Linked DNA regions of Homo sapiens. The protein of the gene in region 2 interacts with the protein of the main gene of each other region in a pairwise test. Each region holds a gene or a part of one and is shown on either strand. Other genes may lie near its edges. The genes, in order: BNIP2, SLC7A14, C1GALT1, UBIAD1 and MFF.

Region 1 (6,337 bases), on a different chromosome or scaffold from region 2:
CTGGCAGCTCCTGTATACTTCAGTCAAGCAGTCCAGCCGGGGCTTGGCACTCTGGAAGACGGGTACTACTTGGGATATCCCATGTGGTTCCACTGGATCCTTCAATAAGATGCAGAGGTAGTAAATCACCTTCTGCATGTAAATAGCCTCATTGATGACAATATCCTTGACCTTGCCCATTTCTATGAAGGTAGTGCTTTCTTAGCCTGAAGCATAAGATGAAGTCATCTGAATGCCAAGGGAATCAATGATTAACAGTCTCCTGATCAATCTTCACAAAATGGAGATAACCAAGCAGACCTAAGAGGGTGATGAAGATGGCAGCAGAGAGGATCATGCTGTTCTCGCAGAGGGTGAAGAGTCCGTAGGCTGCCAGCCACACCGTGCAGGTGACAGCGGTGAGCGAACGCAGCGAGAGCCCAGGGCAGCTGAGGCAGAATTCCCGGCAGGAAGGGAAGTAGTAGCGGCGCTGCAGGGCCAGGCGGCCACCGCAGATATCCGAAAAGCTCCGCTCATCCTCCATGACACCCCAACTCTGCCGCCCGCACCGCACCGCGCGGCACTCCACTGCGCTCGCCTGCCCTAGCCGTTTCATGCAATATCAGAATTCTAAATACTTTTAGAAACTCTGCCTAGAGATATTATGTAATTTTGAAAGAATAATAAGCATTTCTCATTCATTTTAGAAACATGACAGGTTTAAAGTAAAAGAATAAAAGTACCATTTAAAAATGATTATATGCATACAGTAAGTTGAAAAAGTACAAAAGAATTTGTAGTGAAAACTGTCAGGTTGGGCACGGTGGCTCAGGTTTGTAATCCCAGCAATTTGGGAGGCTGAGGCAGGAGGATTACTTGAGCCCAGGAGTTCAGGACCAGCTTGGGCAACATAGACCTCGTCTCCACAAAAAAATAAAAAAAATAAAAAAATAAATAAAATTAGCCAGGAGTGGTGGCATATGCCTGTAGTCCCAGCTACTTAGGAGGCTGGGGTGGGAGGAGAGAGAGCTTGAGCTTGGGAAGATGAGGCTTCAGTGGCCGTGATCATCCCACTGCACTCTAGTTTTTTGTTTTGTTTTGGTTTTTGACCCTGTCTCAAAATTAAAAAATTTTTTAAACTGTCTCTAGGCTACCCAAAACTGGGACTGAACAGTCTCCCTAATTTATAAACAGTGAAATGCTCTGATCTTAAGTGTGCAGTTCAATGAGTTTTGACAAATGCCTATATAACCATATATACCCATATATATAAAACCCATACCCCTAAAAATGTAGAACATTTTCATTGTCCCAGAAGAATTATTTAGTACCCCTGTGCAATGAATACTCAGCTTCGGTAGCCACTGTCATATCTACCCCCTGATTAGTTTTGCCTCTTCTAGAATTTCATATATAGTAACTAAAATCATCCTATGCACTCTTTTGTTTACTTTTCAGCATGAAGTTTTTGAGATTCATCCATGTTGTTGCACGTATCCACAGTACATTCCTTCTTATTGCTGAGTAGTTTTCCATTGCTTGGATAAACCATAATTTGCTTATCCGTTTTTTTTTATGTGCATGTGAGTTGTTTCCAGCTTGGGCTGTTATAAACAAAACTGCTTTGAACATTCTTGTAGAAGTCATTTATGGATATAAGTAAAACTTGGACTCTTTTTGTTTTGTTTTGTTTTGAGACAGAGTCTTGCTCTGTCACCCAGGCTGGAGTGCAGTGGCGTGACAGCTCACTGCAACCTCTGCCTCCTCGGTTCAAGGGATTCTCCTGCCTCAGTCTCCCGAGTAGCTGGGATTACAGGTGCACGCCACCATGCCCAGCTAATTTTTTGTATTTTTAGTAGAGAAAGGGTTTCACCATGTTAGCCAGGATGGTCTCGATCACCTGACCTCGTGATTTGCTCACCCCAGCCTCCTGAAGTGCTGGGATTACAGGCATGAGCCACCGTGCCCGGCCCTAAAACTTGGACTTTTTAACCTTAACTCTTAATTTGCCTTAAAACCGTGAACAAATTTTTTTTTCTTTTTTTTTTTTTTGAGATGGAGTCTCATTCTGTCACCCAGGCTGGAGTGCAGTGGCGCAATCTCGGCTCACTGCAACCTCTGCCTCCCAGGCTCAAGCGATACGCCAGCCTCAGCCTCCCAAGTAGGTGGGACTACAGGTGCACGCCACCACGCCTGGCTAATTTTTGTATTTTTAGTAGAGACGGGGTTTCACCATATTGGCCAGGCTGGTCTCGAACTCCTGACCTTGTGATCTGCCCGCCTCAGCCTCCCAAAGTGCTGGGATTACAGGCATGAGCCACAGTGCCCAGGCCAAATTATTTTTTAATAGAGAACTAGTTCACTCCACACTTCTATACAGCACCCACTTTCCATACTTATGGGATATACAAAAATACAAGGCTTAAGTCCCTGCCCTTAAGAAATAGGAAAAGCCATAAAAGTTTAAGTTATAAATCCTTTCAATCTAACAGTACCATATATAGAAGTTAACCTAGGCACATTGTAAATAGTGCTAGAATGTTAGTGGTAAGTCAGAACACAACTCACTGTAGAGCATGTCATACTACCTTAAATCCTCCTAACACAGGACGGAGGGCATATGGGTCAAGCAGATTGATTTTTTTTCAGGGTCATTTCCACTTGATTTACTCTCTGCCAGATGCATTCCCCTGCTTATTTCTACAGTCTTCATTCATCTGAAAGCAAATCACATGAATATTTGTAGTTGCATTCTTCTGCCTAATTTAATCGTACTCAGATGAAGAAAATGGCGTAATCTGCATCAGGAAGTCCACAGACATACATTATTCAGCTAGTTCACAGGAATCAAATTATAAGACCTGATTTATGGCTTAAATCTCTTATCTTTCAGAAATAGCACTTTTTTTATAGGGGAAAATAAGACCACCTTATTTTATTGCATTACCACACTTAATATATTTTGTGACTGAGTGATTAAGAAAGGTAGTGAAGATTCTGATGTTCTTGAAATGTTCAAATCTTTTCATGTGCAAATTTGTAAGCAATAGAAATGAAGGTTAAAGCAGAAGTATTTGCTACTAAATATTGGCTTAATATCTAAAGACTGCTGTTGAAACATACATATTTTAGCGCTGTTTTCCATTACTGAAAATTATGTCAGAGATGTAATTTAGTTTGTTTTTTTGTTTTTGTTTTTGTTTTTTTTTTGAGACCCAAGTCTTGCTCTGTTGCCCAGGCTGGAGTGCAGTGGTGCAGTCTCGACTCACTGCAACCTCCGCCTCCCAGGTTTGAATGATTGTCCTGCCTCAGCCTCCTGAGTAGCTGGGACTACAGGTGCACACCACCACACCCAGCTAATTGTTTATATCTTTAGTAGAGATGGGGTTTCGCCATGTTGGCCAGGCTGGTCTCAAAATTCCTGGCCTTAAGTGATCTGCCCACCTCAGCCTCCCGAAGTGCTGGAATTACAAGCATGAGCCACCTCGCCCGGCCTAATTTAGTTTTAATGTCCTAATTTCTACAAAATGCTAGCATTTTTAAATATAAACTTACCTTTTAAAAATCACCCACTTATGGCTCTGGCGATGTGGCTCATGCCCAGTGCTTTGGGAGGCCAAAGGAGGAGGATTGCTTAAGGCCAGGAGTTCACGACCAGTCTGAGCAACACAGTGAAACCCTATCTCTACAAAAAAAATTTTATAAAGGTTAACCAGGCATGTTTGTGTGCGCTGTATCCCCAGCTCCTCTGGAGGCTATGAGGTGGGAAGATCCCTTGAGCCCAGAAGTTCAAGGCTGCATGAGCTGTGATTGCGCCACTGCACTCCATCCTGGGCAATGGAGCAAGATGCTATCCTCTAAAAAAAAATTTAAAAAAGCACCCACTTTGCCGGGCACGGTGGCTCACGCCTGTAATCCCAGCACTGTGGGAGGCTGAGGCAGGCAGATCACGAGGTCAGGAGTTCGAGACCAGTCTGGCCAACTTAGTGAAACCCCATCTCTACTAAAAATACACAAAAAATTAGCCGGGCACGGTGGTGTGCGCTTATAATCCCAGCTACTCGGGAGGCAGGAGAATCGCGTGAAGCCAGGAGGCGGAGGTTGCAGTGAGCCGAGATTGTGCCACTGCCCTCCAGCCTGGACGACAGAACGAGACTCCATCTAAAAAAAAAAAAAAAGCACCCACTTTAACCATAAGCATCATAGAAATAAATAAAAATACATTGCAGTTATTGTATTGTGTCTGTATTGTATTGGGTTATATCACTATATTTGTCTACCTGCTAAAATAGGGCTGGCTTTTTAAATATGCGAATTTAAGTGGTCTTGGGTTTTTTTGTTTTTTCTGTCCACCGTCCTCTTTAAATTTTACTGTTCTCTTTTTGGGAAGAAGACATTAAAATTCTATATAAGACCATATAAGATTTACAAAACATACATTTAATACAGAAATCTGTGAAAAGTAAACTCTTATTTATAATTTACTAATCATACAGATGTCTTCTAAAAATGCCTAAGAGTAAAATCGTGCTGGTGATACTGTCTTTGGTTTCTTTTTTAGGATATTATGGGGATGGATTAAATGCCATTGTTGTGTTTGCTGTCTGTTTCATGCCTGAAAGTAGTCAGCCTAACTATAGATACCTGATGGACAATCTTTTTAAGTAAGTATATATTAAACAAAAACATTTGGACAGAATTGTGAGCTAATTAGATCTACACCTTAAGAAACTTAACCTTTTCAAAAATTATAAATATTCCAGTTCTTTGGGAGACTGAAGTGGGCAGATCACTTGAGTCCAGGAGTTGGAGACCAGCCTAGGCGATATGACAAAGCTCTTTCTCTACAAAATCAAAAAATTAGCCAGGCATGGTAGTATGGGCCTGTAGCCCCACCTACTCAGGAGGCTGAGGTGGAAGTATCACCTGAGCCCATGAGGTCAAAGCTGCAGTGAACTGTGATTTTGCCACTGCACTCTACCCTGGGTGACAGAGTAAGACCCTGTCTCAGAAAAATAAATATCCCAGATCTTTTCACGTGCAAGTTTGTGAACAACAGAATGAAGGTTAAAGTAAAAGTATTTGTTACTAGATACAGGACTAGATGAGTCCTTATTCTTTGATATTATGGAACGATAGTTTTCCAATTCAAGAGAAAAATTGTCATTTTAAAACTGGGAAATATATCTCAGATTATTTGTTCCAACTTTGTTTCGTTTTGTTTTGAGATGGAGTTTCACTCTGTCACCCAGGCTGGAGTGCAGTGGTACAACTACGGCTCCCTGCAGCCTTGACCTCACGGGCTCAAGCCATCCTCCTACCTCAGCCTCCCTAGTGGCTGGGACTGCAGGCACATGTCACCACATCCTGCTGACTTCTTAATTTTTGGTAGAGACAGAGTCTCACTATGTTGCCAGGGTTGGTCTCAAACTCCTGGGCTCAAGTAAGCCACCATGCCTTACCTGTCCCAACTGTTTTATGTTAACATTTGCAGGCACATTAAGTGTAAAGAAGTGATTTTTGTCTCAAAATCATGTGGCTAAATTACATTTACCCCTAGAAGGCCAATATAATTGAGCCAAATCAGTTCTTTTTCCACAAGGTCATTCTATTTCTCAGGTTAGTGCAGTTTTTAAAAACCGTATTGTGGAAAGTTTCAGACATACACAGGGGTAAAGAGAAGTATATCAAATCTTCATGTATCAGTCACTTCAACAATTACCAATTTATACTTTGTTCCCACTTCTAACCCCCAGTTTACAAGTTTGAAGCAAATCCCAGGAGCAAATCATTTCACCTAGAAACATTTCAAAATATATCTCTAAAAAATAAGATAATCGTAATACTAGCTAATGCGGTTTGAGCATTTTCATTGTTGCTCTCATTGTAGGAGAGAGGAAGGAATTGTATAATGGTACAATTTAGAGAACCTAGTTCAGTTATGCACAGTGATTTTTAAGGCTTAAACTTAATTTGTTTTTTACAGATATGTTATTGGCACTTTGGAGCTATTAGTAGCAGAAAACTACATGATAGTTTATTTAAATGGTGCAACAACTCGAAGAAAAATGCCCAGTCTGGGATGGCTCAGGAAATGTTATCAGCAAATTGATAGAAGGTAATACAAATACAAGTTGAAAGCTAGTCTGAAAAAATTTTATAATGGCTTTAGGAAATCAAACTTTGTTTTTCGTTGCTATTTTTTTTTTTTAACTTTTTTTTTTTTTGAGACGGAGTTTCACTCTTGTTGCCCAGGCTGGAGTGCAATGGCACAATCTCGGTTCACCGCAACCTCCACCTCCCAGGTTCAAGCGATTCTCCTGCCTCAGCCTCCCAAGTAGCTGGGATTACAGGCATG
Region 2 (6,337 bases):
AAAATAAGCATCCCCAACCCCGTTTTGCAGATGAGAAACTGAGACATAAAGTAGCATGACTTCCCATTAGATCAGCTGCAGGGTCATGGAGAGAATCTCCGCCCAACTTCATCCTAAGCCTGCTCTTCCTGGCCATACCATATTAAACAAGCCTTGTTGTTATTATAGTCAACAGAGTCGTGGTGGTATTTTAAAAAATAATCAGCAATAGTGGGAGTTGGTGGGGTTGAGGTGGGGGTGGGAAGGATACCTTCTCATTACCACCCAGTCTCCCTTTCTGCTTCGGCAAATGTCTGTTTTGGAAAGTTGATCCCAGAGTAGTCAAAATAAAAGCCCTCTAGGCATAACAAAGTGCCTCAGCTATCTGCAGTGGGCAGAGCTTCCTGCTGGAAAGTGCACCCCAGCAAGAGGCAGCTCCACCCAGCCTGAGGTCAGGTGGCCCACCTCTCTCGGTTCTAAGTATGGAGCTTCATGGAGAGGACAGGGAGTTCCCAGGAACTCTGGAGATAGGGGACCTGGTCTGCAACCTAAGTGTGTGCCCTCAGAGTTGGAAATATGCTGTTATTGTTTGCATTACTCAGTCTCTTCAGAGTTGAGTTTTTGTTCTAGGATTTCTCCTGTATGATCAAGACCTCCCTTTCCCACCTCTCTTTCTTGTAGGTTTGGGGTCATTTGCTTAATTTTCACAGGATGGATAAACACAGGGGGGTGAGCAGGTATGTCACCTGCTGATGCCAAGGTACCCTAGTATATGAACGCAAGCTTAGCTTTTGTAAACCTTCCCTGGAGGCACCTGGGTGGGACAGGAACAGCCCTCAGGTTAGAGTTAAGAGATATGAGTCCCAATGCTATTTCAATTACTGATTTATCACACAGTTCTTAACTTCCCTGGGATGATGGATGAGAAAGTGCTTTTTTTAATATATAAAGTGCATTACAACCACAAAGTATTTAATATCATAAAGAAAGCCCATTCAATTGCTAAAGGCATGATTCTTGATCTTGTCTAGCCTGAACTTCTCATAGACACATTTTCCACTGGGGAACTTCTGTCTAGAAAAGAAGCCAAAGCCTCCCTTTGAATATTTCCCGTCACTGCAAACAGACTTTCTTTTTTTTTTTTTTTGAGACGGAGTCTTCACTCTGTCACCCAGGCTGGAGTGCAGTGGCACAATCTCAGCTCAATGCAAGCTCTGCCTCCCAGGTTCACGCCATTCTCCTGCCTCAGCCTCCGGAGTAGCTGGGACTACAGGTGCCCACCGCCATGCCCGGCTAATTTTTTTGTATTTTTTAGTAGAGACGGGGTTTCACCGTGTTAGCGAGGATGGTCTCGATCTCCTGACCTCGTGATCCACCCACCTCCGCCTCCCAAAGTGCTGGGATTACAGGCGTGAGCCACCGTGCCCGGCCTTTAAACAGACTTTCATAAGACTAACCACCATTACCTTTGACCAGGACAGGCATGCAGCCCACGTGCCCCAGTCCAACCATGTCTGTGTTAAAATATTGAAACTTTTTTTTTTTTGAGATGGAGTCTCACTCTGTCGCCCAGGCTGGAGTGCAATGGCGTGATCTCAGCTCACTGCAACCTCCACCTCCTGGGTTCAAGCAGTTCTCCTGCCTCAGCCTCCCATGTAGCTGGATTACCAGTGCCCGCCACCGTGCCCAGCTAATTATTTTTTTTTTTTTAGTAGACGGGGTTTCACCATGTTGGCCAGGCTGGACTCGAACTCCTGACCTCAGGTGATCCACCTGTCTCGGCCTCCCAAAGTGCTGGGATTACAGGCATGAGCCACCGTGCCCAGCCAGAATATTGAAACACTTCTGTGTTTACTGCTAACTAGTCACTTTCCTGCACACACCACGCACCCCCACCATGACCCATCAACTCAAAAAAAATAATTCCAGCCCCACAGAGGAGCCTCCAGGACACTGCTGCAGCACAAAGGCTGACACCCTCTGATTTTTGCCATCACACCTGCCTTTAGTTTCTTACTGACATAAGTTATGTAACTACAAAGCAATGGCTCTAAGTTATCTGCTTTTAAGGTACAGCAGAATTAAATATCCAAATAGAATAAATAGTATTATTTGTGAATCAGCCATCTTATTCTTGAGGCTTGGTTTCAAATGACTTCTGGCTTATAGCAAAATCAAATCCACCCTCAAAAGATATTAGATTGCCCTCCGCAAGAGTTTACAAAAGTATATGATGCCGTTCCCAGTGACCATCTTGATTAGCGGTGCCCAAAAACTACTTCAAGCAATGATGGCATCATAGGAATACGTGTGTAGCCTCATAAGGTGAAGAGTTTTCCACACACATGTAATAATTTAGATAAATTTTAATACTGCTGGATATCAGATAATATTAAGAAATTATTATTAATTTTTAGTTGTGATGATACTGCTTTTTTTAGAGATGCATACTCAAATATTTACAAATTAAACCTATGATAGAAGGGATTTGTTTCAAAACAATCTGTAGAGAAGGGGTCAGGGGAGGGAGCATGAAGGGAGCTGGTGATTCATGATCCTATTCACTCCACTTTTGTATATGTTCTTCCAAATAAAACGTTAAGCCAAATTGTTTTCCATCCCTGGTAGGCGGGAGATGTAAGAGGGATAGAAGCGCCCTGGATTAGGGCATGGGGAGACCTGGAAGGATTCACTGTCCACCTGCTCACTGTGTGGCTGTGGACCTTCCCTTATGTTTTCTGTGCCCACTGTCCTGTTGTCCTGTCTGTGAAGTGTGCAATGCACATAATCACTCACACACACACACACACACACACACACACACCCCTTCCCAGACAGGTTAAAGGGAGTCTAAACAAAACAAGATACTGTTTGTGTAACATTTTGAGCTCTTTGGGACAAAGGTGCAACATCAACCATCCATCATTATCCTAACCCAGCACACAGAAATGCTTTGTGAAGTTTAGTTTAGATGATTCAGGATTCCCAGAACCCCTACAGATTTTTCAGAAACTACCTCATGCTTCATTCTCTAAGCCAACTAAAAAAAGGAGCAGAAACAAAACACCCTGCTTCCACACAGGAGGCGTGGAGCAGCTCTGTTTACTCCTCCGACACAAAGCCCTTGTTTATGTGGGACAGATGGTAATACGTTTCTCTTCTCTTCTCTCTCTCTCCCTCCCTCCCTCCCTTCATCTGTTCCTCTCTGTTTCTTTGTCCCCCTCCATTTTTCTTTTCTCCAATCCTTCTCAGTTTCACACCACTTTTCCTGAATTGACTCAAGGGCCAGCAAGAAAGATAGACACACAGAATGCCAAGCCCTAGGGGAACGGCTTTGCATCTACTATTTACTCTACCAGGCTGCATGCACACGGTCGTTTCTTGTTTCACAGTACTCACATTTGAAATGCATTTTTGAAGACAGAGTGATACACCTTTGAAACTCCAGGGGGTTCAGGGCAAACATGAAAAGACCCATAAATATTTATGTGGCAAGTTTCCATGGATTGTCTTCACAAAGTAAAAAGTAACCACAGTCAATATGTGAGAGCGCGCAGACACAGACACACACACATACACACACACACACACACACACACACACACATGTTCCTTCCAGGCCTGGCCACTCCCAAAGAACACATGTAAACCTCTTATCACATGTTTACTGCAGTGGGCATAGTCTGTAAACCAGCCTGGGGGAGGGGAGAGGAGGTGTGAAGGACTAGACACGCAAGAGACTTCTCTCCCTCCATGTATAAAGCTGGTTCCTCTCCTTCTCAGACCCAGGCAAGTCACTTATTCTTTCCCAGCCTCTGTTTCTTCTTCTGTAAAATGAAGGTTTTAGAATGCATAGGTGATCTATAGCATCTTTTCCAGCTCTAAATATCTATGACTCAAGGTTTTTAGAGAATTCCCATAATATGAATCTATCTGACACCCAAAATACCTTGTGGGGGCAGGGACAGGTCTGTTGGAATCGACAAACCAGTGATGAGTGATGTCAAACCAGTGACTGAACAATGACCTTTGTGGTGGCAGAGGAGAGACGTTTGGGGCAAAGGGAAAAGAAAAAGATGGTATTAAGTTCAGTAGGGAAATGAGTCGTCTATAAGCAAAGTCAGAGAAGGGCATCAGAAAGGAAAGAATTGGCATAATAGGTACCAAGCAGGAGTAGGAGGCAATATTTGGCATCTGCCTGGGTGTCTAGAAGAAAAGATGGCAAAAAAGCAAAGCAGTGCAAAAGGAGGTGTGCACAGGTCCTGCCTGGTCGCCTGAAATCCATTCTCAGATGCCAAACATGCTTCAGACAGAGGCATTCTCCAAGAACCAGCACACTGGCACTCTTAGAAGAGGCCTTAATGTGATGCCCTGTTCTACACAAGGATAATAACCATCCCCCATAGCCACCCCCCACCTACAGAAAAGAAAGAGTAAATACCCTGCTTTTAAAAGATGAATCATTATTTGAGCACTAATAGCTACATCTGCAAATAATTAACTCTAGGATTTATTACCAATTAGGACTATAAATCTGTGCTTACTTTGGCTCCTGGAAAGTTGATTTCACTGGGGAGTGTGGGAGGGAGGGGGGACAAAGTCATTTGAGACAAGGAGGGAGAAATCCAAGCTTAAAAAGGCACACTTCAAATTCAAAAGAGAGCAAGATTTCTCAAGCACCACAGCAGCAAAGCAGGCTTGACTTGCGGTTCTAAGCAAACCAGCCCAGCAGAAGCCTGCAGGGTTAGCAAAGTCAAAGAGACTGGTGCTACTCAGAGGAGGATGTTAGGGCCCGGGAAGGAGGTTGCATACTGTATGGACCCCAGTGCCTAGGCCATAGTGTGGGCTGAGTGGGCAGTGGAACACTGTGCCCATCAGGCACAGTTCATTATCTCAGGGACACTCTGACCATTGGAATCACCTGTGGAGTTTTAAAAACATACCTATGCTTGGGTTATACTGCAGACTAATTAAATCAGAATCTCCAGGATGGGGCTAGGGTATCAGAGTGGTTCAAAAAACACCCCCAGGTGACTTTCAAGTGCAGCCAGGGTTGAGAACCACCACTTACCTCATTTCATCCTCAAGCACTCCCATGTTAAGAGGGTTGCTATAGCTCTCATCGTTTTACAGAGAATGCTGAGGAACAGAGAGGCTAAGTAATGGGACCAGGGTTACACAGCTAACAGTGATGAAGGCAGGATTTGAACACAGAGCCCACAGTCTTACTTATCATGTTCTATGGACTCCAAGGTTATGGTTCCCAGACTTCCAGGCCCTGAACCTTCACAGTCTATTCAAGATAGAAAATGGGGACTCAGGCCAGGACTGATGGCTCATGCCTGTAATCCCAACACATTGGGAAGTGGAAGCAGGCGGATCACTTGAGTCCAAGAATTTGAGACCAGCCTGGGCAACATGGTGAAACTCCATCTCTCAAAAATACAAAAATTAGCTGGGCGTGGTGGCACATGCCTGTGGTCCCAACTACTCGAGAGGCCAAGGCAGGAGAATCGCTTGAGCCCATGAGGCAGAGACTGCAGTGAGCCGAGATCATGCCACTGCACTCCAGCCTGGACAACAGAGTGAGACCCTGTCTCAAAAAAAAAAAGAAAAGAAAAAGAAAATGGGTACTCATAAATGACTTTTATGCATGTTTTTTAAATCATAGAAATGAAACATTAGCATATATGAATGCTACATATTAACGAGGGGGGCAAGTTTCTTTCCTTTGATTGGGATGACATCAACACAGAGGTTGCACTGGACATTTCACGCTTATCAGGAGTTCTCACCCATTCATTCAACAAACATTAAGTGCCAATTTTCTGCAGAGTCTACGACCCTGTGCAGATAATCACACAACAGATGTTCTAAGGGACATAATAGTAGCATGCACTAGACACTCTGAGAGCACACAGAAGAAAGCAGGCAGCTTGGAGTGGCCATGATATATCACGCCTTTAGTGAGTGTAAAATGTCAAGGTAAATCACAGGATAATATATGCATGCTGCTAAGAGGTGAAACATGAGATAGAGTCCCTAACTGGAGGCAGAGAATAATCAAATCTTATAAGAACGTTGGGAATAAACTGTTGCTGATCCATAAATAGTTCACCCAGGGTAGAAAATGCAAATTCCTGGCTGGCAGCTATATGAGTGTAATGAGCCCGACGTCAGCATGGGAGGTGGGGACTGAGGTAACCTAGAGACCCTGTATCCTGTCTAAAGAGGCAGCCAGTTCTCAACACCAGCCAAAAATCACCATGTAGAAATGTGGATGCAGTGTTGTCAGACCTTTTGACTTTTCTAGGAAAATCTGTAAATATGGGTTACTTAACGCAAGATCTCCCAATTTT
Region 3 (6,337 bases), on a different chromosome or scaffold from region 2:
AATATGTTAACTTACTAAAAGTTGGGCATAGAACATAGCTCTGCCAGGAAAAAGTGCGCATAATTTCAAGTTGCTTCATTCTGGTGTGAGTTTGGGAAGTTGGAATCCGAGTTTTTAGAAGGTATTTAGATGACAGCTTTTCACCCTCTTAGGTAAATGGCAGTTGAGCTTAATGCCCATGATGCTGTATGTTCTAAATATTGTATATAGTACACTATACTTTCTACCAGTCTTTATATATAGATGTACAGTTTAAGTGAATATAAAGTTTCAAGTTAGCAAACAGTTAACTCTTCACCTTATGGTAAGTGAAACAATGACTTAGTAAGGAAAGTATGACTCATTTAAAATTCTTCATAAAGAGAATAATTTTTCAGTATTAGTGGAGAGCTACTAAATGCCTCTCAAATTTGCCTGGAATGTGTATTTTTTTGTATCTTCCTACTTAGGATTAAGCATTTTAGAAATATTTTGTGTTTCCTATTTAAAGTTTTTCATAATTATGCTTTTTAAGACTAGACTACGTTGAGTAAATTCAATATCCAGTTATTCTTAAAATTGTATCACAAATTTATTTCAGGGTACACATAATGAGTTCTTGTTTACCTAATAGAAATATGAAAAAGTATGTCACTAGGCACATGCTACTATTTGTGTATTGATTTGTGCTAAAATTAAAATTGCATTATGCAGTTTAACATTATAAGCCATGGTAATTTAGAGTCTTTGTGTGGTAAAATCATTGATTGGAATTTTTGTGACAGTGCAGCTATAAATAAACCTTAAGTAGAAAATGGAAAGCTTGATGCTGAAATTAAATTCAGATAGGCTTAAAAGTTTAAGCTTCCCAATACAACCATCTTTTCTTTTAGAAGATTTCTTAAGATTTGATTAAAGACGCTGATGTACAAACTATAGCAAGGCTGAAAGAAAGGTATGACAAAAATCTTTTTACTTCAAATTCAGTGGGATTAAGTCATTCTTTTAAAAGAAGAAAGGTGGGGAGCGGGAAGGAGACTTGTTCCATAAAATGAGAAGTTAGCCTTTTATCTTAAAATCTGGTTAGAGAGGAACTCCAATGTGTACTTAAATTATTTTGCAGCTAATTCAAATGTCCAAGGGGAATATATATGCCAAAATCTGTAATATGTGAGAATAGGAAGAGGGAGAAAAAAAATATATAAAGAAACTGGTGTTTGTGATTTAGGGAAGCACATAAGAAGGTGGGGGAAACTGAAAGGAAAGTCTAAATAAATTATCTAGCACCTGTAGTATGTGCTGCCTTGCACATTGAAGGGGCGTGTTGGGGGCAACGAGAGGCAATATTAGGGAGATTCTGGAATGGGAAACCTGTATATTAAAGCACATTTAAACGGCTAGATGTTGGATAATAGGCAGAATTTGAAATTAAATACAGCTTGGCATAGTTATTTGCATTCTTGGTCATTGTATTTTCTAGGGCTGCGGTAACAAAATACGACAAACTGGGTGATTTAAAACAACAGATTTATTGTCTCAGTTCTGGAGGCAAGATGTCTGAAATCAAGATGTAGGTATGGCCATGCTCTCTCAAGGTTCGAGGGGAGAATCTGTTCCATGCCTCTTAGCTTGTTGTGTTACTGCCAATCCTTAGCATTTTTTGGCTTGCAGCTATGTCACTCCAGTCTGTGACTCTGTTATCACAACATAATCCCTGTGTGGCTCTGTCTTCAGATGGTGTGCTCCACTTCTTGCAAGGATACTAGTCGTATTGGATTAAGATCCACCCTAATCACCTCATCTTAACTTGATTACATCTGCAAAGACCCTATTTTGAAATAAGGTCACGTGCAGAGGTACTGGAATTAGGACTTCAACCTATCTTTTGTGGGGACACAGTTTAACCTGTAACAGTTGCACGGTTTATCTTTTACATCGTTCAGTAAATGTTTAGCATTATAGACTGAATCAGAGGCTATAGTGGAAACAGGATGGGACACTTACATTTATTTACATATATCAGTGATGTCTTAATCTGTTTTCTGTTGCCTCTAGCAGAATATCTGAAACTGGATAATCTATAAAGAAAAGAAATTTATTCCTTACAGTTAGGAAGGCTGAAAAGTCCTGGTTCAGGGGGCCACATCTGGTGAGGGCATTTGCTGGTAGGGACTCTGCAGAGTCCTGAGGATAGCACAGGGCACCACATGGTGAGGGGGCCGAGCATGCTAGCCCAGAACTCTTTCTTTCTTTCTTTCTTTCTTGTAAAGCTACCAGTTCCTTTCCCATGATAACCCATTCATGAGGGCTGAACCCTTAGTACCCAGTCACCATTTAAAGACTCCAGCTCTCAATACTGCCACAGTGGTGATTAAGGTTCAACATGAGTTTTGGAGGAGACAAACATTCAGACCACAGCAAGTGCTTACTATGTGCCAGGTCCTGGAGATAAAACAGTGGATAGGCAAAAATCTCTGTCCTCATGGAGCTTACATTCTGAAACACGGGTTCTAAAAATGTGGTCCCTGGATCTGCAGCATCATCATCACCTGGGAAGTTGTTAGAAATTGAAATTTTCAGGCTCCATCCCAGAACTCTTTATTTAACTAGCCTTCCAAATGATTCTGATGGAGACTCAGGTTTCAGAACCACTGATCAAGATGGAAAAGAGACAGTAAACAAGATGAATAAGTAAAATAATATTTGATATTAATAGGTGCTGTGGGTAAGCATAGGGTGGCCAGTGAAGACTCCTGAAAAGTAAAGACCTGAAGGAGTTGGAGAGTGAGCCATATGAGCACCTGGGTGCGTGTTCTTAGCAGAGAACAGTTAAGTGTGAAGACCCTGGCACGTTTGAGGAATGACAAGCAGTTAGTATTAGGTTCAATCTATGAAATTGCTGCTGTTTGTTCATTTTTGACCTACAAAAACACCAAATACTGGGGAGAAGAGATCAGAAAGAAAGGGGTGGAGTAGGATGCAGATTGTGGGTAGATCCTTGTAAGGTTTTGGCTCTCTAAGATTAGGAAGACGGGAGGGTTTTGAGCAAATGAGTGATGTGATCTGATTTCAGTTTTAAAAGGATCATTGTGGCTATTGGTAAAAATGGGCCAAAGAAGCAAAGGCTAAAGGAAGGGGAAAGTTGGTTAGAATGTTGTTGGAGTAGTTAAAAGACAGAGAGGTTGCTCAGACCAGGGTGATAGCAGTGGAGAAGTCAGAAGAGGTACAAGACTAAAAACGCACAGTAAATGGTTTGAAAAGTAAGTTTTTTTCATCCCACTCCAGTTACCCAGTTGTCCTCCTCAAAGGCAATTAGTGTTAAAAGTAGTCTTATCTCTATTCTTCCTGAGATTTTTTTTTTTTTGAGACGGAGTCTCACTCTGTCGCCCAGGCTGGAGTGCAGTGGCGCGATCTCAGCTCACTGCAAGCTCTGCCTCCTGGGTTCACGCCATTCTCCTGCCTCAGCCTCCCCAGTAGCTGGGACTACAGGCACCTGCCACCATGCCCAGCTAATTTCTTTTTTTTTTTGTATTTTTAGTAGAGACAGGGGAGATCTTTTATGTAAATGTGAGAAACAGTTTTAACAAATTAGTGGAGAGGTTGTTACCTGGAAACATTTAGCAATGTCTACAGACATTTTTGTTTGTCACAACTAGGGGGAATACTACTGGCATCTAGTGAGTAAAGGCCAGGGATGCTGGCTAAATATCCTACAGAGGACCGGACGGCTTCCACAACAGAGAGTTATCCAGCTCTTAATGTCAGTAGCGCCAAGGTTAAGAAACCTTAGTTTAATGGGATTTACAGAGGTTGGTGGGAAGCAAGTGTTGTAGTCAGAGAAGACAGTAGGAAGAGGAGCTGACCATATTGGGAACCTTTCAGTAACTGTAGACAGTTCAGGATTGCTGAAGCAGACATAAATTATAAGGCACAGAATAGCAAAAGACGAGGCTGGAAACCTGGACAGGCTCTAGGTCATAGCCTTTATTTATATATCATGTTAATAAAAAATGTTTAGTTTTTGTCTTGTAGGCAGTGGAGTTCCGTGAAAGGATTCATGGGGTGACATGGTCAGCTTTTCATTTTAGAGAGCTCATTCTGGTGACGGGGTATGAGTTAAAGAGGGATAGCACTTGAGTCAGAGAGGTTAGATATTGTAATAGCCTGTGGGGAGAGAGGAGAGTCTGAAATAGGATAAATACTAGAAATGGAGAGGAGACAATGGATTAGAATAATATTTAGGAAGTAATGTTGGCAAGACTTGGTAATTGGATTTGGGGTGAAGATAAGGGAAGCATTAAGAATATCTGTGTACTTTGTAGTTTAGATAATCCTGTGGCTCTGAGTGAAATAGGAACCCATTGGTGAATAATTTAGGTAATTACCAGTAATTAAGGTAAAATGAGCAGAGGAAAGTAATGAGTCACTTTGGAGGTGTTGAATTAGAGATGCCTATGGTCCAGGTGGAAGTATTTAGCAGGCATTTGTGTATGTGAATCTGAAACTTGGAGAAGTCTGAAAGGATCAAGAGATCATTTTGTTTGACAAGTGTGGAGAAATTAGTGGACTTTAATTTTTATCATATTATTTCACTCTGTAGATAAAAATTGCCTCCCTTTATTTAATTTTTATCAGAAAAGTAATGTGTGTACCCGATGCAAAATTAAAACATCAAAAGGTTATAAAATAAAAAAAAATTTGTCCTTCCTTGCTCATGCCACCCAGTGCTAGTTCCCAGAGATAGCTCTTGTTAAATATCATATGTATATATATCTTAACAGATTTTAAAATATATACAGAAACATTTAAAAAGCCAAGTGAAATCATACTAGAAAATATTTCGGTACATTGTCTTAAAAAATAAACCTTTTATCTTATACAGTTGTTAAAATGAATGACATTGTGTTATGGATAAAATAAGTGAAGGGGTAAATTAAAGTGCAGACTAACCGATAAGCATGATCTCTGATGTAAATTAAAAGCTGAACATACATATGTGATGATATAGGCATTACCCAACGATACGAAAGCAGTTACTTTTGGGGAGAGATAGTGGTAGAGATGGTAAAGAAAATTTACTCTTTTCTGTCTATGATTTTCTTTCATTTGTTTAGGTTTGTTCCTTTTGTTTTCTTTACATTTTCTGATGTTTAAAAAAATACCCAGTATACCTTATTAACAATAAAAAGTAACCTTTGTCAAAAGCACAAAGATTTTCCCTATCAGCACATGTAGATCATTGTTTTTAACAGCTACTACTATTCTATGCTATGGCTCTATCTTTTTTTTAAAAAACTGGTTCCTCATCAACAGACAGACGTCTTATGGTTATGGCTGTCGAGCATCTTGGCTGACTTCTATGATTATATCTGTAAAATAAGTTTCTGATCATGAAGTGATATATCAAGGCATAATTAGTTAAAAATTTAAAAAGATGTTGTGAAATGCCCTTCCAAAAGACAGTAAAAGTATGTATTATGAGAAAGAATACAGGACTACCAGTTTTCTTGTATCTGTGTCAATAACAGCTGTTAATAAACTTTAAAAGTTTTGCCAATATGTTAGGTTAAAAATAATATCTCTTCATTTGATTTACCTTTGTGAGTGAAATTTGAACATCGTTGACCATTTTTTACTGTGAATCTTTTATTTTCTTTATCTGTTTTTGTATTTGGTTAACTATCTTTTTTATTATTTATGATACTTTTTGGTTCTTTTTGCTGTACATTAAAAAAATATATTTCATAAAGAAATATGCCCTTTAACCAGCGACTTCATTGCCAGAAGTTTATCCAATGAATAAACTCATAGTGTTTTAATAGTCACAGCTTCTGAGTGTGGGAGAGATCTCAATTCGTAATATCAAAATGCAAAAATATATTTTCTTCCAGTTTTGTTTTAATTCCATTTTCTAAAATACTGAAATCTTAGAAACATTTGAAATTGTTACTAGAAAGTAAGGATCCAGCTGGTTTTGTTTTTTTTTCCCCAAAAGATTAATTAATTCAATACCATTTCTTCAATAAGCCACCTTTTTCTTGATTTGAAATGCTGTTTATTATGTATTAAATTTCCACATGAATTTTTGTTTTCCATAGAGTCTTTATTTCAACCTGATGAAGTCCCTTTATAAGATTCATCTGGTAGAGACCACCAGGGACACATCTGTAGGCTGACAAAGGTTAATTAGCTTGCTGCAGTGAAGGAGACTTGCACAGCAGAGGAAATGTCAGCATTTCTAAAGAAGGAACCAGGGTTATTATAGGATTTTGGAGAATGGTGGAGTTTGGATAAAGTTTAAACGCAACAATATTTGATAAGCTTAAAGCACGGCAAGACTGTGTGTCAAGGGTTAATA
Region 4 (5,706 bases), on a different chromosome or scaffold from region 2:
AATGTGGCTTAGGGGTGAGAGGAGGTGGTCCTGGGGAATGGTCTTTAAAGTCTTAAAGGGTGAGTAGAGTTAGCCAGGCCAAGGGAGGGGTGTCTGAAGGCTCTGACGGATTGGAAGAAGTCTGTGTGAAGAGGGGAGGAGAGCTCAAGGTGAGGCAGGAGAGGTAGGGCTGGGCCACAGGTGAGCCAGGTTAAAGATCTGGGACTTTTATCCCCAGGATGAGTGGTTGATAAGGGTTTAAGTGTATGTTGGGGGAGGGGGTGGTCAGATTCCTTTATTTATTTATTTACTAATTTTTTTGAGACAGAGTCTTGCTCTGTCTGCCAGGCTGGAGTGCAGTAGCATGATCTTGGCTTACTGCAACCTCTGCCTCCAAGGCTCAAGCATTTTCCCTGCCTCAGCCTCCCGAGTAGCTGGGATTACAGGCGTGTGCCACACGCTTGGCTAATTTTTGTATTTTTAGTAGAGATGGGGTTTCACCCTGTTGGCCAGGCTGATCTGGAAGTCCTGACCTCAGGTAATCTGCCCGCCTTGGCCTCCCAGAGTGCTGGGATTACAGGTGTGAGCCACTGTGCCCACCCAGCCAGATTCCTATTTTTAAAGGTTCACTCTAACGCCTTTTTAGAGATTAGATTAGGGATGGAGAGGGGGAGGGGTTATGAGAGGGGAAGCTGATAGACCAGTTTGGAGGATGTTGCAGTATCCCAGGCATAAGATGACCATGAGGTAGATTTGGTAAGGGGGATGGAGGGTGGCCCCGGGGATGGAGAGAATGGATAGTTTTGAAGGAAGTGGGTTAGACAGGCTTTGAAGTAGATGAGCAGGACAGAAACAGGAGGTAGGGGTGGTTTAGTTTCAATCTCATAGGAGACAGAGGAGGAAAGCAGCATTATAACTCTCCTGTCCTCGCTGTTTTGCTTATCGCAGGGGTGCAGGTTTAAGGACCCCGAAATTTCACTGAAATTCACTGGCCGTTTTTAAAACCAGAAGATGCCTTGAGATTGTAGGGGAAGGAGGTGGAAAAGTAGAAGGCCAGAGTGGCTATTCTGTGAGGGATTGATCTCACGGGGTCTTGCAGGGGTTGGTGAAGGGTGAAAGATAGCAAAGAACTGGATTCTAAGACCTTTAGATCCTTCCTGGGCTCTCCCATTGAACTAAGAGTATAGTGGGTGCCTAGTGTGCTATGTTGCAGAGCTCTGTTGGGGGACAGTAGGAAGGGAAACTTGGGTATGAACCTGGGAAGAGGGACTTGAGGCCTCACTGGGCATTCTCTCTGCACCTGTGGCATTGGAGAAGAAATCAGAATTTGCTCTGTGGGGTTAAGGGATGAAATGAGTGCCCACCTGCACAGTCTAAGGATTTACCATTTTCAGCCGGAAGTGGCCTGCCTCTTCACTGGTGAACAGTCCCTAAATTTCCAGCCTTGGTCTCACACCAACTCTCTGGATTTTCTGGCCGCAGGAATTGGATTCAAGTACGTGGCTCTGGGAGACCTCATCATCCTCATCACTTTTGGCCCGCTGGCTGTGATGTTCGCCTACGCCATCCAGGTGGGGTCCCTGGCCATCTTCCCACTGGTCTATGCCATCCCCCTCGCCCTCAGCACCGAGGCCATTCTCCATTCCAACAACACCAGGGACATGGAGTCCGACCGGGAGGCTGGTATCGTCACGCTGGCCATCCTCATCGGCCCCACGTTCTCCTACATTCTCTACAACACACTGCTCTTCCTGCCCTACCTGGTCTTCAGCATCCTGGCCACACACTGCACCATCAGCCTGGCACTCCCCCTGCTTACCATTCCCATGGCCTTCTCCCTTGAGAGACAGTTTCGAAGCCAGGCCTTCAACAAACTGCCCCAGAGGACTGCCAAGCTCAACCTCCTGCTGGGACTTTTCTATGTCTTTGGCATCATTCTGGCACCAGCAGGCAGTCTGCCCAAAATTTAAGGGGACAAGTAGCTCCCCCCACGACATGTCTCCCTTTCTTAGAATATATTAAAGTCAGAGTCTCTGAGGAAGGAATGTGATTTGGCAGTCAGGGTACTAAGCATGGGTGGGAACTCCTGCCTTATAAAAATTGTTTTTGTGTTCTTAAAGATAATATGTTGTTTTTCTGTTTTTTGTTTTTTCCATTTTATGGGGAATTTAAAAACCATTCTTGTATCAGAAGGTGAATTAGGCGCATGGTCTTTGTTTTATTAATAATTTCCACTAGAGGGTGTTCTCAGGTCACTTTGCAGTGAAGTGGACTTAGTTCCTCCTTGTTCTGTACAAAATGTCTCCAGACTTTGTAAAGGAGCTGCCCAGTTTGGCCTCCTGTCCCGAAAAGACCCTAATAACTAGGCAGAGTGTTGTCCTGCTTTCTTCGTCTCGTAGGATGTGCTATGATTGGTGCCAGGCCTCACTAACACAGGGGCTACCTGTCTCTTATTCTCAGCACCTGTGTCCTGAGATACGCTGCCTGAGACAGAGAGAGTCCCTCATTAACAGCCTGTGTGGCTGTCAGCTTTTTGCCTAAATTGTGATTCAGATGCTTTTGTTCTCTCTCCTTTCACTTATTGCCACAGTTGAGGAAAAGTGTCAGATTACCCTGCAGCAAGACAAGCCAAGGACTGGGAGGGAAAAAAAAACCACTCTGGAGGCAACTGAGAAAATCACTGCTTTTGGATAGGAATCAGTAGGGTGGCTGTTTTCCCTTTGTTGAATCTACTAGAGTGACAGGAAGGACTCCCAGCCCTTTCAGTAACTATCAGGAGCCCTGAAACGGTAGAGGCACTGCCATCCTTGTGGGATACTCAAAGCCCACAGGGCTTTTCCCTCCCTATTGCATCTTCTGATGCTCCCCACACCTACCCTCCACCTCTCCACCTCTGTGGTGTTCCCATTTGTGTGTTTCCCATCTGTGGAGCCAGACTGAGCAATAGCTTAGCAGCGAGTCAGGGACAGCTGCCACTTTCCACAGAGCCACAGGATGGGCAGAGCAGGGACCCAGGGAATGAATAGCCAGTGGACAAACAGTCTTGAGCTCTGTTCAGCCAGAGTGATGGGCCCTGCCAGTTAAGGGGCTGTGTCTTCATCCTTGAAGACAGATGTGCAATATTGACCCTGCCTCTCCCCAGGGCTTTGTGGAAAGATAGTTGAGGGCTTTAGTGAGATCACACTCAGAGTGGGGCAATTCCAGCATTTATCCTGGCTGCGTTTCATTGCATTGTCTGTGAAGTATAATTTCTGGGCCAGAATTGCTCAGTTGCATTTGATCCAGGACTATAGATTGGAAATGGGTCATCATTGTTTTCTGTTGTGATTATAGCCATTCTAGTAGGCGTTTAAGGTCATGGCCTGCAGAAAATGATGTAAGAACTAGTTCTTAATCTTTCAGATCAAGCTAATGATGATATGGAACCTTGAGTTCGAATTGATTGGTTTACTTGGAAAAAAACATGTTTGAAAATTGCAAAAGTTCCGCCGGGCGCGGTGGCTCATGCCTGTAATCCCAGCACTTTGGGAGGCCGAGACGGGCGGATCACGAGGTCAGGAGATCGAGACCATCTTGGCTAACACGGTGAAACCCCGTTTCTACTAAAAATACAAAAAATTAGCCAGGCGTGTTGGCGGGCGCCTGTAGTCCCAGCTACCTGGGCGGCTGAGGCAGGAGCATGGCGTGAACCCAGGAGGCGGAGCTTGCAGTGAGCTGAGATCATGCCACTGCACTCCAACCTGGGGGACACAGCAAGACTCCGTCTCAAAAAAAAAAAAAGAAAAAGAAAATTGCAAAAGTTCCTCTAAAGTTAAATCAAAGGTGGTTTGTCTAGCAGAGAGCCAGAATCTTCTAATAGTGGGCAGAGCCCAGAGACAAGGGGAAGAAAGATGACCTTCTCCCCAGTCCTTCCCAGCACCATTTTTGTTTCACACCAGGCTTGTGGCATTTTGGTGCTCACAGGGGTTTTGCCTTCTGACCTCTCCTTGGAGTAGGCCATTCTCATGCAGGGCTCACCCTGAGGCAGGAGGACCAAGGGCTCCCTGCGTCCACGGACCACGTATGCCTTGGTGGTCACTCCCATCGGGGCTATCAGTTCTGCACTGTGCCCTGGTGCGGATTTTAATGCATATTTTTATATATAAATGTTCCCAAAGGCCAAATTTGTTGCCAGGTTTTATACGCAGGTCACCATAATTTGTATTATGTTCCCTGAGTCAATGAAGGTTTTCTTTAGACTTCTTAATTAAAAAGAGAAGAAAGAAAATGTTCACCAATGGTCTGGCTTCTGGTTTTTGCTTTCCTCATACTTACTGTCTGATTGTGAACTCTGATTTGTAAATCTCAGGGAGACCAAGGCAGTGACATTGGACATTCAGGCTGTGCAGAGGGGCACCTGGTCTTTGGTGATGAGTTTGGGTAGGGTTTGACCAGATTCGACAGGCCTTTAGAAAAGGCAGCAGGGACTGGGCATGGTGGCTCACGCTTGTAATCACAGTAATTTGTGAGGCCAAGGTGAGAGGATTGCTTGAGCCCAGGAGTTTGAGACCAGCCTAAGTAACGTAGTAAGACCCCATCTCTACAAAAAAAATTTTAAAAAGTTAGCTGGGCGTGGTGGTGCATGCCTGTAGTCTCAGCTACTCAGGAGGCTGAGGTGGAAGGATCGCTTGAACCTAGCAGGTCGAGGCTGCAGTGAGGTATGATCACGCCACTGCACATCCGCCTGGGCGACAGAGCGAGACACTGTCTCAAAAAAAAAAACAAAACAAAAAACGTTGAGGGCTGCATGTAGCTACAGTGGATTTGCCAAGAGCCAGTCAGCAGTCAGGCCAGATTAACCTCGTTTCATTTTTCTTTTTCTTGATAGGGTCACTGTGCTGCTAGATGGAGAACATGAGGTAGATTGAGTACATGTGGGTTTCAGCTAGGCATTGGACAATATATCCTATGAACAAGGCAGAGAGACGTGGGATGGATAACAGTGGAGTTAGATAAATTCCTGAGAGACTGAGCAGGCGGTGGGAGAGAGCTAACTGATCAGCATGTCAGTGGCAGCTGGGAAGGAGCCCTTAGTAGCAGTTGGAGCCCTGTCCTCTGCCCTTTGCTCCGCTGGATTCAACACCTGTTATTAATGACGCGGATGAGGCAGCCAAAATGAAAGGTTTCATGAACCTTGGAGGAAGAGCTTACAAAATGACAATTAGGAGCCTCATAAATCAAAAGGCTGCTTTGATGGGTCAAAAGAAAAATGTAGTGTGAATAAATACAAAGCAATACACTAAGGTCCCAAAATCAACAGCATAAACATCAGAGAGGGGGAGAGCCATGATGTGACAGCCATGGAGATAGGGGGGTATGAGTTTTCTCAGTGACTGGAATCTGACATCACTTGTCTTTATTTATTTATTTATTATTTTTTTTGAGACTATGTCTCAGTGTCGCCTGGGCTAGAATGGAGTGGCGTGATCTCGGCTCACTGCAACCTCTGCCTCCCGGATTCAAAGCCATTCTCCTGCCTCAGCCTCCCCAGTAGCTGGGATTACAGGCACGTACCACCACACCTAGCTAATTTTTGTATATATATGTTTTATATATATCTCACTCTGTCGCACGGGCTAGAGTGCAGTGGCGCAATCTCGGCTCACTGCAACCTCTGCTTCCTGGGTTCAAGCGATTCTCCCACCTTAGCCTCCTGAGTAGCTGGCATTACAGGCACCCGCCACTATG
Region 5 (6,337 bases), on a different chromosome or scaffold from region 2:
GGGCAAGTTATTTAACAGTTCTAGGGCGTATCTCTGAAATAAAGATAAGAATAATGCCAAGTGCATGAGATTGTTATGAGAATTAAATGTAATCATGCATGTTCTAATTCGTGTTAAAAGCTCAATATATATAAATGTTATTGTTAGGAGAGACTTAAAATCCTGTGGCAGGAGCCAGATCCTGAAATGAAAGACGAGTTTCTGAGATTAATACCAGCTGCTTATTGAAAGCAAAGATGATGGTTTGGACTTCAAGTTTATACAAGCTTATAGAAGGGTCCAGTAGCCTTCAAGAAGCACTCAACTGCAGTGAGCAAGGGAGGAAGGGGTAAGGGAGCCAGGGTTCTAGTAGCTTCTAGAAATTGACTGAAATAGAGAAGCAGTAAGGGCCTGAGTACTGATAACATTGATGATTCATTCAGGTGTTAACTCAGAATCGATAAAGTGAGATCCCCAGAACATTTGCTCTGTATCATTCTGCAGTGGATGCTAGAATGAGGTAGAGCAATAGTGCTCTACCTCAGCACTGTTGGCATTTTGGACTGGAAAATTCCTTGTTGTGGTGAGAGCCACCTTTTTGCACTGTAGAATGTTTGCAACATTTGTGATCTCTATCTACAAGATGCCATTACCGTCTTCCAAGTCATGATATCCAAAAATGTCTGTAATAGCAAAAAGGTGGAAGCAAGTAAAATATCCATCAGCTGATGAATGGATAAGCAAAACATCATCTAGCCATATAGTAACTCTTATTCAGCCATAAAAAAATGAGGTACTGGCTGGGTGCGGTGGCTCATGCCTGCAATCCCAGCACTTTGGGAGGCTGAGGTGGGCAGATCACTTGAGGTCAGGAGTTCAAGACCAGCCTGGCCAACATGGTGAGACCCTGTCTCTACTGAAAATACAAAAATTAGCTGGGCATGGTGGTGTGGACGCCTGTAATCCCAGCTACTCTGGAGGGGGAGGCAGGAGAATCACTTGAACCCCGGGGTGGAGGTAGCAGTGAACCGAGATTGTGCCACTGTACTCCGGTCTGGGCAACAGAGCCAGACTCTGTCTCTCAAAAAAAAAAAAAAAAGGTACTGATACATGCCACAACATGGATGAACCTTGAAAACATGTAAAGTTTAAGAAGCCAGACAACAAAGGCCATATATTGCATTTTTCTACTTACATGAAATATCCAGAGTGGCCAAATGAATGAAGACAGGATACAGAGCAGTGGTTGTCAGGGGGTTAGAGGAGAGGGGACTTGAGAGTGACTGCTTAATCAGTATGGGGTTTCCTTTTGGGCTGATGAAAATATTCCGGAATTAGATAGTGGTAATGATTACACAACGTTGTGAGTGTACTAAATGCCGCTGAATTGTACACTTCAACATGGTTAAAATTGTGTATGTTATGTGTGTTTTAAAATAAAAAAGAAAATACCTCCAGACATTGCCAAATGTTCTCTACAGGGCAAGATCACCCCCTACTGAAAACCACTGACCTATCTCAAGAAAGGAGAAGGCTTATGAGGAAGCCTATAAAATTGTTGTCTGAAAGCCTGATTGATGCAAGGGATAAATTTGTAGAAAGCAGTTGTACTTGAGTTCTTAAACTGGCTTAAAGAATCCAGGTGAGCCCTTGAGGAGGGCTTAAAACATAACATAAATAATCCCTTAGCTCAAAGACAGTTTAAAAATGTGAGGCTTGGCTGGAAGAGAGGAAGTTGACAAACACTTTCAATATGCCTAATCTCCACCAATATTTGGAAATCAGCTCTAAGATAAGACCATTGCTTGGTGATTCTGTCTGCTGGGAACTAACAAAGCAACTGTTCAATAAACCATGTGATCTGGGCATGAAATACAAAATGCCCAAGTCATGACAGTTTTCAGTGTTCCTACAGTAGACTAGGCAGTGTGAATGAGGAGAAAGAAGCTGTAACACTGACATTACCAGCTCTTCTCAAAAAGGAATCCGAACTGGAGCCAGTGGGGAAGGATCTTCCAGAGAACAAGAAAGAAGAACTGTAAAGAAAGAGTTGGAAAATGCTGCCTGTAAGAAGATTTGACACAACCTTGAACAGTGTGACTAAGTCAAAGATGTGGACTCTGCCGTTAAATCCTATCAATCAAGCCGTGATATGCTTTGAAAAAATCAGCTACAATAAACCCTAAGAGCTTTGTGAGAAGGCCATTGAAGTTGGAAGAAAAAACAGACTGGTCTAAAGATAGAGAGTAAAAGCTTTTGCCCAAGTTGGCATCTCTTACTTCAAAGAGGAGAAATACGAGAATACTATTCATTTCTATAATAAATCTTTGGAAGAGCACTGAACCCCAGATATACACAAGAATCGTCAATAGTTAGGAATTAATCTGGAAAGAGCAAAATCAGTTGGCATATATAAAATCTGACCTGATTTTGGAGGAGAAGAGTAAAGGCATTGAGTGGTTTCAGAAATGGAACTATCTCCAAGCCATGCCAGCTTTATACAGAAGCCATCAAATGGCATCCTCCACAGGATGCCAAATTCTACAGCAGTTATATCCAAAGTGTACAGCCAGAGCTGGAGGAGTAGAAGAAATATCTAGCTAGATCCACCCTTAACACAGATTATACTTAGAAAGCAGCAGCCTTAGAATCTGAAGGATGACACAAAAGCCATGAATGTCTAGCAGAAGGCCCTAGACCTGTAATTCTACCGTAAAGAAGTAGCAGATGGTTATTGGTGCCCAGTTCAATTGATATGACAACGCTAAGGATGTGAAGCAAAAAACCATAGCTATATGACATATCCTAAAACAAATGCAGAAGGGCTCCCAGGGACTCAGTGAATATTTAAAAGGGTCCTGTGGAAGCTTAGAAAATCAAGAACTTCATGAATATGGGTCTGATCACACTTTGGTGATGGTTTCTTGAGCTCTTTTTCCTTCCTCATCACTTCTGGAAAGAGGAGCTGGGACTGCAATGAGCAGAATGGAGCAAAAGTCTGGAGAGAAGAGGAAAAGCTGAATTGTATATATGTTTACACATTCATGCATGGAAAATTCAGAGATGGACACTTGCGTTCTTTGTACAGCTACAGTTTTATGGCCCTCTTAGCACAAGCATGGTCTCGTCACTCCTGACAAATTGGGCTATGTGTCCTTCCCAAAACCCGCAGTCACTGGCTTAACTGTTCTCCCCATGATTCGTGATTTTAAATTTTGGACAATGCACATGTTGGGGAGGGAAGATATTTATCCCAACTGTTCAGTCTACATTGATAATTTGTACCTTTCCCCCTTCTGCATAAAAGTCCCACAGAAAATGGGGGTGAGTATAGAGGAAAAACACGAAGGCTCTGAGTAGATTCCTGAAGAAGAGGTGGGCTTTGAACAGATTGAGAGAATCAGCCATCAAAAAACCTAGAGGACATTTACTTGCCCAGGAATTTATGAACAATCAAATTTAACTTGGGGTGTAAGCATATTAAAGGAGAATTGTATGCAAGCATGCAAAGTGTCTAGTGCTACATGTTATATAACTATGTAGCACTAGACACTGTGACCCAACTTCCAGGAAGCTGCTTGAACTTAGGAAACTATTTCTCAGCCTCCGGGATGAATAAAACTAAGTGCATAACCACTGAAGGATGATTCTGAAAGACATTTTAAAATTCTGCATTGAGGCCAGGCACAGTGGCTCACATTTGTAATCCCAGCACTTTGGGAAGCCGAAGTGGGTGGATCTCTTGAGGTCAAGAGATCACCAAGCCTGGCCAACATGGTGAAACCCCATCTCTACCAAAAAATACAAAAATTAGCTGGTCATGGTGTGTACCTGTAATCTCAGCTACTCAGGAGGCTAAGGCATGAAAATCTCTTGAACCCGGGAGGCAGAGATTGCATAAGCCAAGATTGTGCCACTGTACTCCATCCTGGGCAACACAATGAGACCCTATCTGGAAAAAAAAAAAAATCTCAGATTGAAACAAAACAAACATCCAGGCCGGGCATGGTGGCTCACACCTGTAATCCCAGTACTTTGGGAGGCCAAGGTGGGTGGATTACTTGAGGTTAGGAGTTCAAGACCAGCCTGGCCAACATGGTGAAACCCTATCTCTACTAAAAATAACAAAAATTATCTGGGCGAGATGGCATGCACCTGTAATCCCAGCTACTCGGGAGGGTGAGGCATGAGAATTGCTTGAACCCAGGAGGTGTAGGTTGCAGTGAGCTGAAATAGCACCATTGCACTCCAGCCTGGGGGAACAGAGTGACACTCTGTCTCAAAAAAAAAAAAAAGAAAAGAAAAACATCCACCTGGGATTACAGGTGTGAGCCACCGTGCCCAACCAAAAACATCAATAAATATTGATTGATATTTTGAAAATCTTAATTTTCAAGTCCTTAATTCACACACTATTTGTTTTTTTACTATAAAGTTTAATTTTTTAAAAACCATAATGTCGGCCGGGCGCAGTGGCTCACGCCTGTAATCCCAGCACTTTGGGAGGCTGAGGCAGCCAAATCATGAGATTAGGAGTTCGAGACCAGCCTGGCCAACATGGTGAAACACCGTCTCCACTGAAAATACAAAAATGAGCAAGGTGTGGTGGCACACACCTGTAATCCCAGCTACTCAGGATGCCGAGGCAGGAGAATTGCTTGAACCCGGGAGGCAGAGTTTGCAGTGAGTCAAGCCGAGATTGTGCCACTGCATTGCAGCCTGGGCGACAGAACAAGACTCTGTCTCAAAAAAAAACAAAAAAAAAAACCATAATGTTGCCATGGCTATTTTAGTGGGGGGTTTTTTGTTTGTTTTGTTTTTTTTAGTATTTTTGTTGGGCTCAGTGGCTCACACCTGTAATCCCAACACTTTGGGAGGCCAAGGTGGGCAGAACACTTGAGCTCAGGAGTTCGAGACCAGCCTGGGGAACATGGCAAAACCCCCATCTCTACAAAATACAAAAATTAGCCAGGTGCGGTGGTGTGTGCCTATAGTCCCAGCTACTTCAGAGGCTAAAATGGAAGGATCACTTGAGCCCAGGAGGCTGAGGCTGCAACGAGCCATGAGCATGCCACTGCACTCCAGCCTGGATGACAGAGCAAGATCCTATCTCAAAAAAAAAAAAAAAGGTATTTTCAAATAAGCAGAAAAGTTAATGATTATCACTGTTCTAGTTATCCATTTCTGTGTAACAAATCATCTTAAACTTAGTGGCTTAAAACAAACAAGCCTATGTTTTGCTCAAGCATTCTGTGGGTTAGGTATTTGCAGTTGCCGTGAAGGGAAAAGCTTGTTTCTGTTCTTCAATGTCTGGGGCCTAAGCTAGGAAGTCTCAAAGGCAAAGGATAACTCAACAGCTGGATCTGCAGTTATCTGAAGGTTTGCTCACTCACATGTCACTTGGTACTAGCTGTTGTCTGGGACCTCCATTAGGGTTGTTGGCAGGTGCACTTACACATGGCCTCACTGTGTGGCTACTTGGCCTTCCTTGTGTCATGGTGCCATTCTTCCAAATATGAGCAACCTGGGGAAAGAAAGGCAGAAGCTGTACTGTTATGACCTAGCCTCAGAAGTCACTTTGCATCATTTCTATAGGAGTCACCAGCCCTCTGAATTTCAGGGGAAAGAAACAGATCCTGTCTCTTAATGAAGAAGGTCAAAGATACATTTCATAAGAAGAGCATGTGGGATTAGAGATTGCAGCCATTCTGGAATGCCAAAACCATTAAGCTAGATACATTTTTAGTCTAGTTTTCAAATATTCAACCAAATCTTAATTTGTTACAACCGTAGAAGCCAGGAAGGTTTATTTATAATACAGATGCTCTCCATTTCCTATATGTGCCTGTAAACACTTTTATAAATTGTTCTTATAAATAAGTATATACCATAAGGTTAAACAAATAATAATTGTACCAAGTAAAATTGATACTTAAAAAGAAACTAGAGTAGCGTTCTTAAAGTAAATAGACATTCCTGTTTATCTGCATTATAGTAAGTAGGGTGTGTGTGTGTGTGTGTCTTGTTTTGTTTTTAAAGCAAGTCTGTCAGTAATACACTGCCTGGCAGCAATTCTTGGTTGCCTTTTCTTAGTTCGTTGTAAGTTTTTTGAGTAGCCTTGTATCGAGGTTCTTTTGATGCTAAGCAGCTACTAGCCTACTAAGAATATTTCTATTTCCTTCCCTCTCTTTGTGCCTTAACAGATCCGAGCAGTTGGCAGACTAAAAAGAGAGCGGTCTATGAGTGAAAATGCTGTTCGCCAAAATGGACAGCTGGTCAGAAATGATTCTCTGTGAGTAGAAGCACTAGCATTTTATCTCGTTTGTAAGTTTTCTCAGGATATTTTCTGTACCCATGT

Evidence for each region.
Region 1: the proteins of SLC7A14 (region 2) and BNIP2 interact in binary tests that used the Homo sapiens proteins (3 or more experiments, as listed by UniProt).
Region 3: the proteins of SLC7A14 (region 2) and C1GALT1 interact in a two-hybrid assay, tested with the Homo sapiens proteins (one large-scale study listed by BioGRID).
Region 4: the proteins of SLC7A14 (region 2) and UBIAD1 interact in binary tests that used the Homo sapiens proteins (3 or more experiments, as listed by UniProt).
Region 5: the proteins of SLC7A14 (region 2) and MFF interact in binary tests that used the Homo sapiens proteins (3 or more experiments, as listed by UniProt).

What each region holds. Positions count from the first base shown.
Region 1 is NC_000015.10:59,670,943-59,677,279, reverse strand, and holds part of BNIP2 (BCL2/adenovirus E1B 19 kDa protein-interacting protein 2), read left to right. Parts: intron 1-4,540; coding exon 4,541-4,643; intron 4,644-5,965; coding exon 5,966-6,097; intron 6,098-6,337.
Region 2 is NC_000003.12:170,467,557-170,473,893, reverse strand, and holds part of SLC7A14 (solute carrier family 7 member 14), read left to right. Parts: intron 1-6,337. UniProt on the Homo sapiens protein: Imports 4-aminobutanoate (GABA) into lysosomes. May act as a GABA sensor that regulates mTORC2-dependent INS signaling and gluconeogenesis. The transport mechanism and substrate selectivity remain to be elucidated.
Region 3 is NC_000007.14:7,183,925-7,190,261, forward strand, and holds part of C1GALT1 (glycoprotein-N-acetylgalactosamine 3-beta-galactosyltransferase 1), read left to right. Parts: intron 1-872; exon of another isoform or gene 873-934; intron 935-1,459; exon of another isoform or gene 1,460-1,553; intron 1,554-6,337. UniProt on the Homo sapiens protein: Glycosyltransferase that generates the core 1 O-glycan Gal-beta1-3GalNAc-alpha1-Ser/Thr (T antigen), which is a precursor for many extended O-glycans in glycoproteins.
Region 4 is NC_000001.11:11,284,183-11,289,888, forward strand, and holds the end of UBIAD1 (ubiA prenyltransferase domain-containing protein 1), read left to right. Parts: intron 1-1,461; coding exon 1,462-1,949; 3' UTR 1,950-4,252; downstream 4,253-5,706. UniProt on the Homo sapiens protein: Prenyltransferase that mediates the formation of menaquinone-4 (MK-4) and coenzyme Q10. MK-4 is a vitamin K2 isoform present at high concentrations in the brain, kidney and pancreas, and is required for endothelial cell development.
Region 5 is NC_000002.12:227,334,110-227,340,446, forward strand, and holds part of MFF (mitochondrial fission factor), read left to right. Parts: intron 1-6,182; coding exon 6,183-6,271; intron 6,272-6,337. UniProt on the Homo sapiens protein: Plays a role in mitochondrial and peroxisomal fission. Promotes the recruitment and association of the fission mediator dynamin-related protein 1 (DNM1L) to the mitochondrial surface.